Regions from separate parts of the Homo sapiens genome. Here region 1 is linked to region 2. The links come from fine-mapping of genetic effects on plasma protein levels. Region 2 holds a variant in brackets. A gene starts in the other region. All regions are shown on their forward strands. Region 1 holds the start of KLB (klotho beta). Region 2 overlaps FGFR4 (fibroblast growth factor receptor 4).

What was found. PIP is the chance, under the fine-mapping model, that this variant and not a neighbour inherited with it causes the effect. The UK Biobank Pharma Proteomics Project read protein levels with antibody pairs (Olink). The fine-mapping took linkage between variants from a reference panel, not from the people measured, so its PIPs are less certain.
Region 1: it holds the start of KLB, and the variant in region 2 is fine-mapped to the plasma level of the KLB protein (UK Biobank, PIP above 0.99).

Annotation. Positions count from the first base shown.
Region 1 is chr4:39,404,464-39,409,984 of GRCh38, forward strand. It overlaps KLB (klotho beta), which reads left to right and starts at 2,467. Exons shown (of 5, transcript NM_175737.4): 1 at 2,467-3,311. The coding sequence starts at 2,487.
Region 2 is chr5:177,096,388-177,101,387 of GRCh38, forward strand. It overlaps FGFR4 (fibroblast growth factor receptor 4), which reads left to right. Exons shown (of 18, transcript NM_213647.3): 16 at 217-354; 17 at 905-1,010; 18 at 1,140-1,757. The coding sequence ends at 1,289. Among named protein-coding and RNA genes, the nearest start is that of FGFR4, 12 kb to the left of the region's middle. The variant G/C (reference allele first, on the strand shown) is at 1,641.

The DNA of each region.
Region 1 (5,521 bases), not on the chromosome of region 2:
TTTCTATATTCCAGAGAAAACCATTTGGTTCAGTGTATTAACTCGTTTAATTCTCACAATAATCCATGAAGTGCATATTATTATTATGCCTTTTCTTAAAGAGGAAACTGAGGGCAAGTTACACAGCTATATTTAAACTCAGGCAGTCTGCCTCTAGAGGCTCAATCTCTCTTTTTTTTTTTTTTTTTTTTTTTTTTTTTTTTTTTTTTTTAGACAGAGTTTTGCTCTTGTTGCCTAGGCTGGAGTGCAATGGCGCGATCTCGGCTCACTGCAACCTCCACCTCCCGGGATCAGGCAATTCTTCTGCCTCAGCCTCCCGAGTAACTGGGATTACAGGCATGTGCCACCATGCCCAGCTAATTTTGTATTTTTAGTAGAGATGGGGTTTCACCATGTTGGTCAGGCTGGTCTCGAACTCCTGATCTCAGGTGATCCAGCCGCCTCGGACTCCCAAAGTGCTGGGATTACAGGTGCGAACCACTGTGCCGGGCCTCAATCATCTTTTTTTAGAGGTGAGGATAGTCTCACTATATTGCCCAGGCTGGTCTCAAAACTCCTGGCCTCAAGCAGTCCTCCCCACTTAGCCTCCTAAGTAGCTGGGATTATAGGTGTGAGCCACCTCATCTGGCACAGAGACCAAACTATTAACCACTCTGCTTCTCATTCATATGTGATACTTCAAATATTTAAAACATTTATTTATTTATTTATTTATTATTTTTTGAGACAGAGTCTCATTCTGTCACCCAGGCTGGAGTGCAGTGGTGCAATCATGGCTCACTACAGTCTTGACCTCTTGGGCTCAAAGCAATCCTCCCACCTTGGCCTTCTAAAGTGCTGGGACTACAGGCATGCACAACCACACCCGGTTAGTTTTTAATTTTTTTTGTAGAGATGGGGCCTTATTATGTTCCCCAGGCTGTAAAACATTAAATTTTTTACAGGTTATTTGGAGGCTATCGATTTGGTACAATATTTCTTTCTGTATGTGCATGTATTTCTTTCTGTATGTTTATCTTTATTCCAGAATCATGCTGAAGGTAGTCTATGCCTTTGCTATTTTCTTTTTCAGGTTTTTCTTTCCTTTTTAAAAATAAATATTGCCTATTCTTCAAGGGAACTTTCATAATAATTTTCTCTTTTTTTTTTTTTTTTTATTTTGAGACCGAGTCTTGCTCTGTTGCCCAGGCTGGAGTGCGGTGGTGCGATCTCAGCTCACTACAACCTCCACGTCCCAGGTTCAAGAGATTCTCCTGCCTCAGCCTCCCAGGTAGCTGGGATTACAGGTGCCCACCACCGTGCCCAGCTAATTGTATTTTTAATAGAGACGGGGTTTCAACATGTTGGCTAGGCTGGTCTCAAACTCCTGACCCCAAGTGATCTGCCTGCCTTGGCCTCCCAAAGTGGTGGGATTATAGCCATGAATCACTGTGCCTGGCCTTTCGTAATAATTTTCTTGAACTAAAATTTGGGATTAGGCCAGGCATGGTGGCTCACACCTATAATCCCAAGCACTTTAGGAGGCCGAGGCAGAAGGGCTGTTTGAGCCCAGGAGTTCAGGACCAGCCTGGGGGACATAGCTAGACCCCACCTCTACCAAAAAATCAAAAATCAGCTGGGCATGGTGGCATGTGCCTGTTGTCCCAGCTACTTGGAGGCTGAGGAGGGAGGATTGCTTAAGCCTGGGAAGTTGAGGCTGCGGTGAGCTGTGATGACACCACTGCACTCCAGCCTAGGCTACAAAGCAAGACTCTTATTAAAAATTAATTAATTAATTAAAAAATTAGAGATTAGAGAATTTTAGTTAAGTTAAATAAATAAAATAAAAAATAAAATTAGAGATTAGAGGATTTTAGTTAAGTTAAATGTATTAAATTGAAAAGTATTTCATTTTTCCATCCACAAAGTGCTATATTTTCTCATTCAAGTCTTCTCTCAAATCTACCAATACATTTTTGCAATTTTCCTAAAATAGGTAACATTTATTAAGATTGTTCTTAGATGCGTTATAATTTTGTGGAGAAGTGTAATTTCTTATTGTGTTTTCTAATTCTTTACTATTGGTATGTAGGAATGCTATATACTTGTATATGTTATTTTTCTTGATATATGAGATTATAAAATTACCACACAAAAACTCTAAAAATAGAAAAGCTATATACCTTATTCAATAATGTTCAAAACATTCAGAAAAGATTTGGGTCAATATGAAAGGCTACACGGAAAATAATGTGATTTTAATCCAGTGTTTACATATGTGTTAGTTACACATTCAAACTCTTGTCACCGATGCATTTTCATCTAATTTTTTCCATAATGAGAGAGAAGGAGACGCGTTGGTGACTGCAATAGGGCCACCTCCCTCAAATTACGTTGCTCTCTATGACCCATCCTCAGTCTCCCAGTTCAAGCTAATCATTGACAGAGCTTTACAATCACAAGCTTTTACTGAAGCTTTGATAAGACAGTCCAGCAGTTGGTGGCAAATGAAGCCAGGCTGTGCGGCAGGATCTCCAGGGAATGAATGGATTTTCTTCAGCACTGATGAAATAACCACACGCTATAGGAATACAATGTCCAACGGGGGATTGCAAAGATCTGTCATCCTGTCAGCACTTATTCTGCTACGAGCTGTTACTGGATTCTCTGGAGATGGAAGAGCTATATGGTCTAAAAATCCTAATTTTACTCCGGTAAATGAAAGTCAGCTGTTTCTCTATGACACTTTCCCTAAAAACTTTTTCTGGGGTATTGGGACTGGAGCATTGCAAGTGGAAGGGAGTTGGAAGAAGGATGGAAAAGGACCTTCTATATGGGATCATTTCATCCACACACACCTTAAAAATGTCAGCAGCACGAATGGTTCCAGTGACAGTTATATTTTTCTGGAAAAAGACTTATCAGCCCTGGATTTTATAGGAGTTTCTTTTTATCAATTTTCAATTTCCTGGCCAAGGCTTTTCCCCGATGGAATAGTAACAGTTGCCAACGCAAAAGGTCTGCAGTACTACAGTACTCTTCTGGACGCTCTAGTGCTTAGAAACATTGAACCTATAGTTACTTTATACCACTGGGATTTGCCTTTGGCACTACAAGAAAAATATGGGGGGTGGAAAAATGATACCATAATAGATATCTTCAATGACTATGCCACATACTGTTTCCAGATGTTTGGGGACCGTGTCAAATATTGGATTACAATTCACAACCCATATCTAGTGGCTTGGCATGGGTATGGGACAGGTATGCATGCCCCTGGAGAGAAGGGAAATTTAGCAGCTGTCTACACTGTGGGACACAACTTGATCAAGGTACTGTACAGCTAGCTTCTTCTTATAGCTTCAGAAAACACTAAGAATTTAAGAATTTACCTTCTGCCTCAGTAATTCTCTTCACTGAAATCAAGGCAACTGATTTTAAGCTAATTCAAAAGATCTATCCTCAAATTTTGCATTTAAGTTAGTGTATGTTTTATTTATCTAAGGTATTTTTAATGTATTAATCCAATTAGTTTTTTCAAAAGTTGCACTTTGAGGCTATTTTTAAATCTACCATTATACACTACAGTGTGAATATATGAGCTTACTTTCATTCTGTGGGAAAACAGTGCTTCATAAATTTAATTGTTGGAACCCTTTTCTGACAACATGCAATCATTTCAGAATTATCTTAAGGCACAACCATTTCAAATATGTATTTGTTGTTAAGTATAGCTAACTTAGCTAATAAGTAAATAAAGTAAGTAAATAAGTAAGCCAAATAAATGTTAGCTAACTCATGCATATTAAATACAGAAATTTAAATATACTTCACTTTTGATTTTATTTGTGTTACATAGCAAAAAAGAGAAGATTAATTGTTATGGGAGCTAAACACATTTCTTCCCATAAGAACTGGGAAGAATGTGCTCTACTAAAGCAATTTTCAAGCAATATATTTCAAAAGCTAGAGATAATGTTGAGAAATGTTAAAATTAGTAAAACAATAGTGAAAATACAAGCAAAATAATAGGTAATAATTACTGAGTACTTATTATGTACCACAGACTACATTAAGTATTTTACATGCATCGTTACAGTTGATCCTCTTAACAGCCTTTTGAACTAGTTTTATTATTCTTCCCATTTAAAAGATGAGGAAACTGAAGCTTAATGAGATTAAATAATTTTCCCAAGGTTAAGGAGTAAAATACAGCTGTTGTGGACATGGATTTTTTAAATGACAACATAATTAACACTAACTGTCTTCATTAAGAATGCTTTGAAAAGAAGACTCAGGAATTTGCAAGAGATTTAGCCTCACATTGAGGCTAATATCTAGAATCGAATTTAACTTTTTGAGTCAAATAGTTTACTTAGGAAAAATAAATTATTCTGCACACCTGTTACATTTTAAAAATGAAAAAACTTTATCAATATAATTTTATAATGTGCTACAAAAAGTAATTTAATTATTAATAATCAAAAGCTAAATATACAGAAGTAGAAAAAAAATACAGCAACATAAAATAATTCCATGTCTAAATTTGTACATACAAAAATATCTGCTATCACTTCTTTTCTTTTTGAACTTTTCTGGATTATTACACATGTGCATTGTACTATGGTTTCAGATACATCTGCCCTTGAGGTAAACAGATTGCATTATGATTTCAAGGTCATTTGCATATCTTTGACTAGAGTTGTATATAGAACATATTAATGTGTGGGTATACTGTGATTTGACAAAATAAGACCTTAAAGGGTAGAAATTGTATAGGTATTTAACAGTTATCAAGATTATGCATACAAAAGTTAGAAAAATATTCCTCTCATTTAGTCCTTTTAATTTTCTTTTTTTTTTTTTTTGAGACAAAGTCTCACTCTGTCACCCAGGCTGGAGTGCAATGGCGCAGTCTTGGCTCACTGCAATCTCCACCTCCCAGGTTCAAGCAATTCTCCTGCCTCAGCCTCTTGAGTAACTGGTACTACAGGCACATGCCACCAGCCCAGTTAATTTTTGTGTTTTTAGTAGAGAGGGGTTTCACTATGTTGGCCAGGCTGGTCTCCAACTCCTGACCTCATGATCCACCTGCCTCAGCCTCCCAAAGTGCTGGGATTACAGGTGTGAGCCACTGCGCTCAGCCAGTCCTTTTAATTTTTAAAACAATTCATGCTCATGTACATTTAAAAATATCAGATTGGGCCGGGCACAGTGCCTCATGCCTGTAATCCCAGCACTTTGGGAGGCCAAGGCAGGTGGATCACAAGATCAGGAGTTTGAGACCAGCCTCGCCAACATAGTGAAACCCTCTCTACTGAAAACACAAAAATTAACTGGGCGTCGTGGCACGTGCCTATAGTCCCAGTTACTCGGGAGGCTGAGGCAGGAGAATCCCTTGAACCCGGGAGGCAGAGGTTACAGTGAGCCGAGATCACGCCACTGCACTCCAGCCTGGGCGAGAGTGAAACTCTGTCTCAAAAAAATAATAAATAAAAAATAAAAATATCACATTGTACCAAAGGATCTAAAGTGAAAAAGT
Region 2 (5,000 bases):
CCACAAAAAGGGCAAGGCACTGCCCAAAGTCACGTGGCCCCAGGAGTCATGCGCTCGAGGGCTCCTTCAGATTTGGTCTGGGACCCGAGTGGGCCCAGACTCCAGGAGGAGCCCATTCCCCAACAGCTGTGGTGGGTCATGTCTGTGGGGTCCCCCGTCCTAGCCCCGGTCGTCGGGAGGGCGCTGAGCCACACTGAGCCCTGGCCCTACCTCCAGGTGGTCTTTTGGGATCCTGCTATGGGAGATCTTCACCCTCGGGGGCTCCCCGTATCCTGGCATCCCGGTGGAGGAGCTGTTCTCGCTGCTGCGGGAGGGACATCGGATGGACCGACCCCCACACTGCCCCCCAGAGCTGTGAGGCCTCACCCTGCCCTCGACCCCACTTTCCAGTCCTCCTCCTCCTCTGCCCTGACCATGGCCTCAGGGTGTGTCCCGGCCAGAAGGACAACACTAACAACAACTCCTCGTCCTCCTCCTCCTCTTCCTCTTCCTCCTCCTCCTCTTCCTCCTCCTCCTCTTCCTCCTCCTCTTCCTCCTCCTCCTCTTCCTCCTCCTCCTCTTCCTCCTTCTCCTCCTGCTCCTCTTCCTCCTCCTTCTCTTCCTCCTCCTCCTCTTCCTCCTCCTCCTCTTCCTCCTCCTCCTCTTCCTCCTTCTCCTCCTGCTCCTCTTCCTCCTCCTTCTCTTCCTCCTCCTTCTCTTCCTCCTCCTCCTCCTGCTCCTCTTCCTCCTCCTCCTCTTCCTCCTCCTCAGCCTAGTGGAGTGTCCTGGCCTGGCTTCTACTGATGACCCTCCTATCCCTCATCAAACTCCCCACCAAACTCCTCCCCACCCAGAGAACCCCCGGTCCTCCCCTTCCTCCTGAAGGCCTGAGGCTCCCTGTGACCCTCCGCCCCACCTCTCGCAGGTACGGGCTGATGCGTGAGTGCTGGCACGCAGCGCCCTCCCAGAGGCCTACCTTCAAGCAGCTGGTGGAGGCGCTGGACAAGGTCCTGCTGGCCGTCTCTGAGGAGGTACAGCCCCTCCCACCCACCACCTCCCTCTGCCTGCTCCCCTCCAGGCCTCATCTGGCCTGACCGCGTGGACATGCGCCCCGTCCCATCCCGGGCGCTGCAGAGGCTGACCAGCTCCGTTCCCCACAGTACCTCGACCTCCGCCTGACCTTCGGACCCTATTCCCCCTCTGGTGGGGACGCCAGCAGCACCTGCTCCTCCAGCGATTCTGTCTTCAGCCACGACCCCCTGCCATTGGGATCCAGCTCCTTCCCCTTCGGGTCTGGGGTGCAGACATGAGCAAGGCTCAAGGCTGTGCAGGCACATAGGCTGGTGGCCTTGGGCCTTGGGGCTCAGCCACAGCCTGACACAGTGCTCGACCTTGATAGCATGGGGCCCCTGGCCCAGAGTTGCTGTGCCGTGTCCAAGGGCCGTGCCCTTGCCCTTGGAGCTGCCGTGCCTGTGTCCTGATGGCCCAAATGTCAGGGTTCTGCTCGGCTTCTTGGACCTTGGCGCTTAGTCCCCATCCCGGGTTTGGCTGAGCCTGGCTGGAGAGCTGCTATGCTAAACCTCCTGCCTCCCAATACCAGCAGGAGGTTCTGGGCCTCTGAACCCCCTTTCCCCACACCTCCCCCTGCTGCTGCTGCCCCA[G/C]CGTCTTGACGGGAGCATTGGCCCCTGAGCCCAGAGAAGCTGGAAGCCTGCCGAAAACAGGAGCAAATGGCGTTTTATAAATTATTTTTTTGAAATAAAGCTCTGTGTGCCTGGGTCTTCCCTGAGCAACATGGAGTGGGGTGAGGTGGAGGGATCCCTCCAGCAGAGTTCTGCCTACAGGACACGGACTGAGGGCACTGGACCAGGCCATGGGCTCCGCCACCTCCACTGCCCCAGGAGCCAGTGTGTGCCTATCTGGGTCCGCCTGTCCCACCAGCCCCATCTTGTGTCTGCGACAGTGTGAATGAGTATTAATGGGCTGAGTCCGCATTGCACTATACACGGTGGGACTCCTGTACCCTCTGCACATGTGTGTGTGTGCATGTGTGCCCTGCAGCTGTCCCCAAGGGAGCTGGCAGCCCCCCTCCCCCATCTGCTCAGCATTAACCAAGCTGACCGTTAACACAGCATGAAAATCTGAGAGCCAGCCTTAGGCCGCGGCCCGCTCCCACGCTCTGCCGGCTCAGGCTGGGGGCTTGTGGAGGCCATGCCCGCCCCGCCCTGGCCAGTCTCCCGGGCAGCAGCTGGTTGCCGCCCGCCTGGGCTGCAGCTGTCCCTGCCTGCCTGGTCTTCCACTGAGGAGCCGTCACAGCCCTGTACTCAGAGCTCCTCAGAGTGAGCAGCTTCTCAAGGCTCTGAGCCTGGAACCTCCTTCCCTGGCCCCATCCTGGCACGTACTGCTACTCCCCAGCCCCTGAGCCTTGAGTGGGCCATGGGGGGCCCAGGCATGGTGTCTGACCCAGCACTTGGCACTCTCCTGTCCTTTTCCTTACAGGCCTCAGGCTGGGACAGGACTGCCCAACCAGGACAGCCTTCATGGAGGCCATCGGGATTGCCCCCGTCTGCCCCCAGGGAGTGGTGGCTGAAAATGCATATGCGGTCAGAGGGGTCAGACAGAGGGATTGGAGGCTGGGGCCTCCTTGGAAGACTGAGCGTCAGCTCATGATTGTTTATCCTCACTCTGGGCTCCTCCCAGCTCTCAGCATAGCCTCTCCAGCTGACGGTATCCCACACAGAACTCATCTTACCCCCAGAACTGTACCTCCTCCAGGGCAGGAACCAGGGAGTCACCTGACTACTTCCCTCAAGAACCCTGTTCCAGGCCAGGTGCGGCAGCTCACCCCTGTAATCCCAGCACTTTGGGAGGCCGAGGCGGGCGGATCACCTGAGGTCAAGAATTCGAGACCATTCTGGACAACATGGCAAAACCCTGTCTCTACTAAAAAATACAAAAATTAGCCGGGCATAGTGGGGCACACCTGTAGTCCCAGCTACTCAGGAGGCTGAGGCAGGAGAATCATTTGAATCTGGGAGGCGAGGGTTGCAGTGAACCGAGATCGTGCCAGCCTGGGCTAGGGAGCAAGGCTCTGTCGCAAAAAAAAAAAAAAAACAACCCTATTCCCTCATGCGCTTCCACGGTCCAGCGTGGCTCCTGAGGCCAGCACTGCCACCTCTCTGATAATACTGTCTTTGCCCATGAGTAGGGTGCACCTGTCCCGCCTGCCTCCTGGGGCGTAGGGTTTAGGAGGAAGCACGTGCAGATGCACATAGGCTTGGGGGAGGGTGTGATGCGGAGGCCCATGGGTTGGGCTGCGGTGCTTCCCTGGGAGCCGGTGCTGGGGCTTTTGTGTCCCTGAGTGCCCCCCTCCGAGCCCTAGGTATCCAGCCTCCCTTTTGCTCCCTCCCCTGCAGGTGGCTCCAGAGGTAGCTTCCAAAAGCAGACTGGGTTTATGCTCCCTCCTGCTCTCAAAGACCCCCACTAACTCCCGAAAGCCCCCAGACTGACCAACTTTCTTTTTCCTTCCTTCCTTCCTTCTTTTCTTCCTTCCTTCCTTCCTTCTTCCCTCCCTCTCTCTCTTTCTTTCTTTTTCTCTTTCTTTTCCTTCCTTCCTTTCCTTTCCTTTTGCTCCTTCCCTCCCCTCTCTGTCTTCCTTTCTCTCTTTCTCTCTCTCCTCCCTCCCTCCCTCCCTCCCTTCCTTCCTTCCTCTCTCTCTCTCCCTCTCTTTTTCTCTCTCTTCTTTCTTTCTTTCTCTCTCTTTCTTTCTTTTTCTTTTTTTTTTTTTGAGACAAGGTCTTGATCTGTTGCCCGGATTGGAGTGCAGTAATGCCATGGTCATGGCTCTGCTGCCTCAAACTCCTGGGCTCAAGCAACCCTCCCACCTCAGCCTGCCAAGTGTGTAGGACTACAGGTGCATGCCACCATACATGGATAATTATTTTTTAGTTTTTGTAGAGATGGGGTTTTGCTATGTTGTCCAAGCTGGTCTCAAACTCCTGGCCTCAAGCAATCCTCCCACCTTGGCCTCCCAAGGTTCCCAAGCCACTGGACATTCTGACTGAGCCCCTCTCTCCAATGTATAGCCTCCCATTGGGGGGTCACTGTCCACTGACTGTGTCCGCCTGTCCAGCCAATCACAGGAGAAGCAGATCCCTTGGACCTGACCTTGGGAAGGAGAGGACTGGGAGATTAGAATCGTGTGTGAGGACAGTATTCTAAGGGGATGTGGAACAACAGCCCCATTTTCCAATTTCCCACCATGAGCCTGCTGCGGTGCCAGGCTCAACCAACCACGCTCTCCCCTGCCACAGCCTTGCCAAATAAAGATTGTTCTTCCCATTTAACGATGGAGAAACTGAGGTCCAGGGTCACAAGAATGGGGCTCCAGGAAGGAGCTAGGCTGAACCCCAGGTTCCCAGAAGGCCATGTGCACATTGGAGACCAGACCCAGGTCACTCAGAGTGACAGGGGCAGCTGCTGCCTGGTGGGTCCTGGGGGCCGGGAGGGGCTCAGCTGCCCACCCTGCACCCCCTCCCTGCCAGCGTCCCTGGCAGGCACACGCTTCCTGGGGCCATTCCACATTCCTGATGTCCCATGTCAGAATGACACATATACTGCTAATTCCCCTATGCGAGCTCTGATGCTCCAGCTCTCTGCCCTCCCCTCCCCGCTCCCGGCAGCATGGCAGCAGCTGGGGCCTGGCCTCCCTGGTCTGCCTGGGTTCTAGCCTGTGACAGGGGCCCATAGAAAAAGCACTGAGGCCGGGCCAGGCACAGTGGCTCACGCCTGTAATCCCAGCACTTTGGGAGGCTGAGGTGGATGGATCACGAGGTCAGGAGATCGAGACCATCCCGGCTAACATGGTGAAACCCCGTCTCTACTAAAAATACAAAAAATTAGCCGGGCATGGTGGGTGCCTGTAGTCCCAGCTACTTGGGAGGCTGAGGCAGGAGAATGGCATGAACCCAGGAGGCGGAGCTTGCAGTGAGCGGAGATGGCACCACTGCACTCCAGCCTGGGCG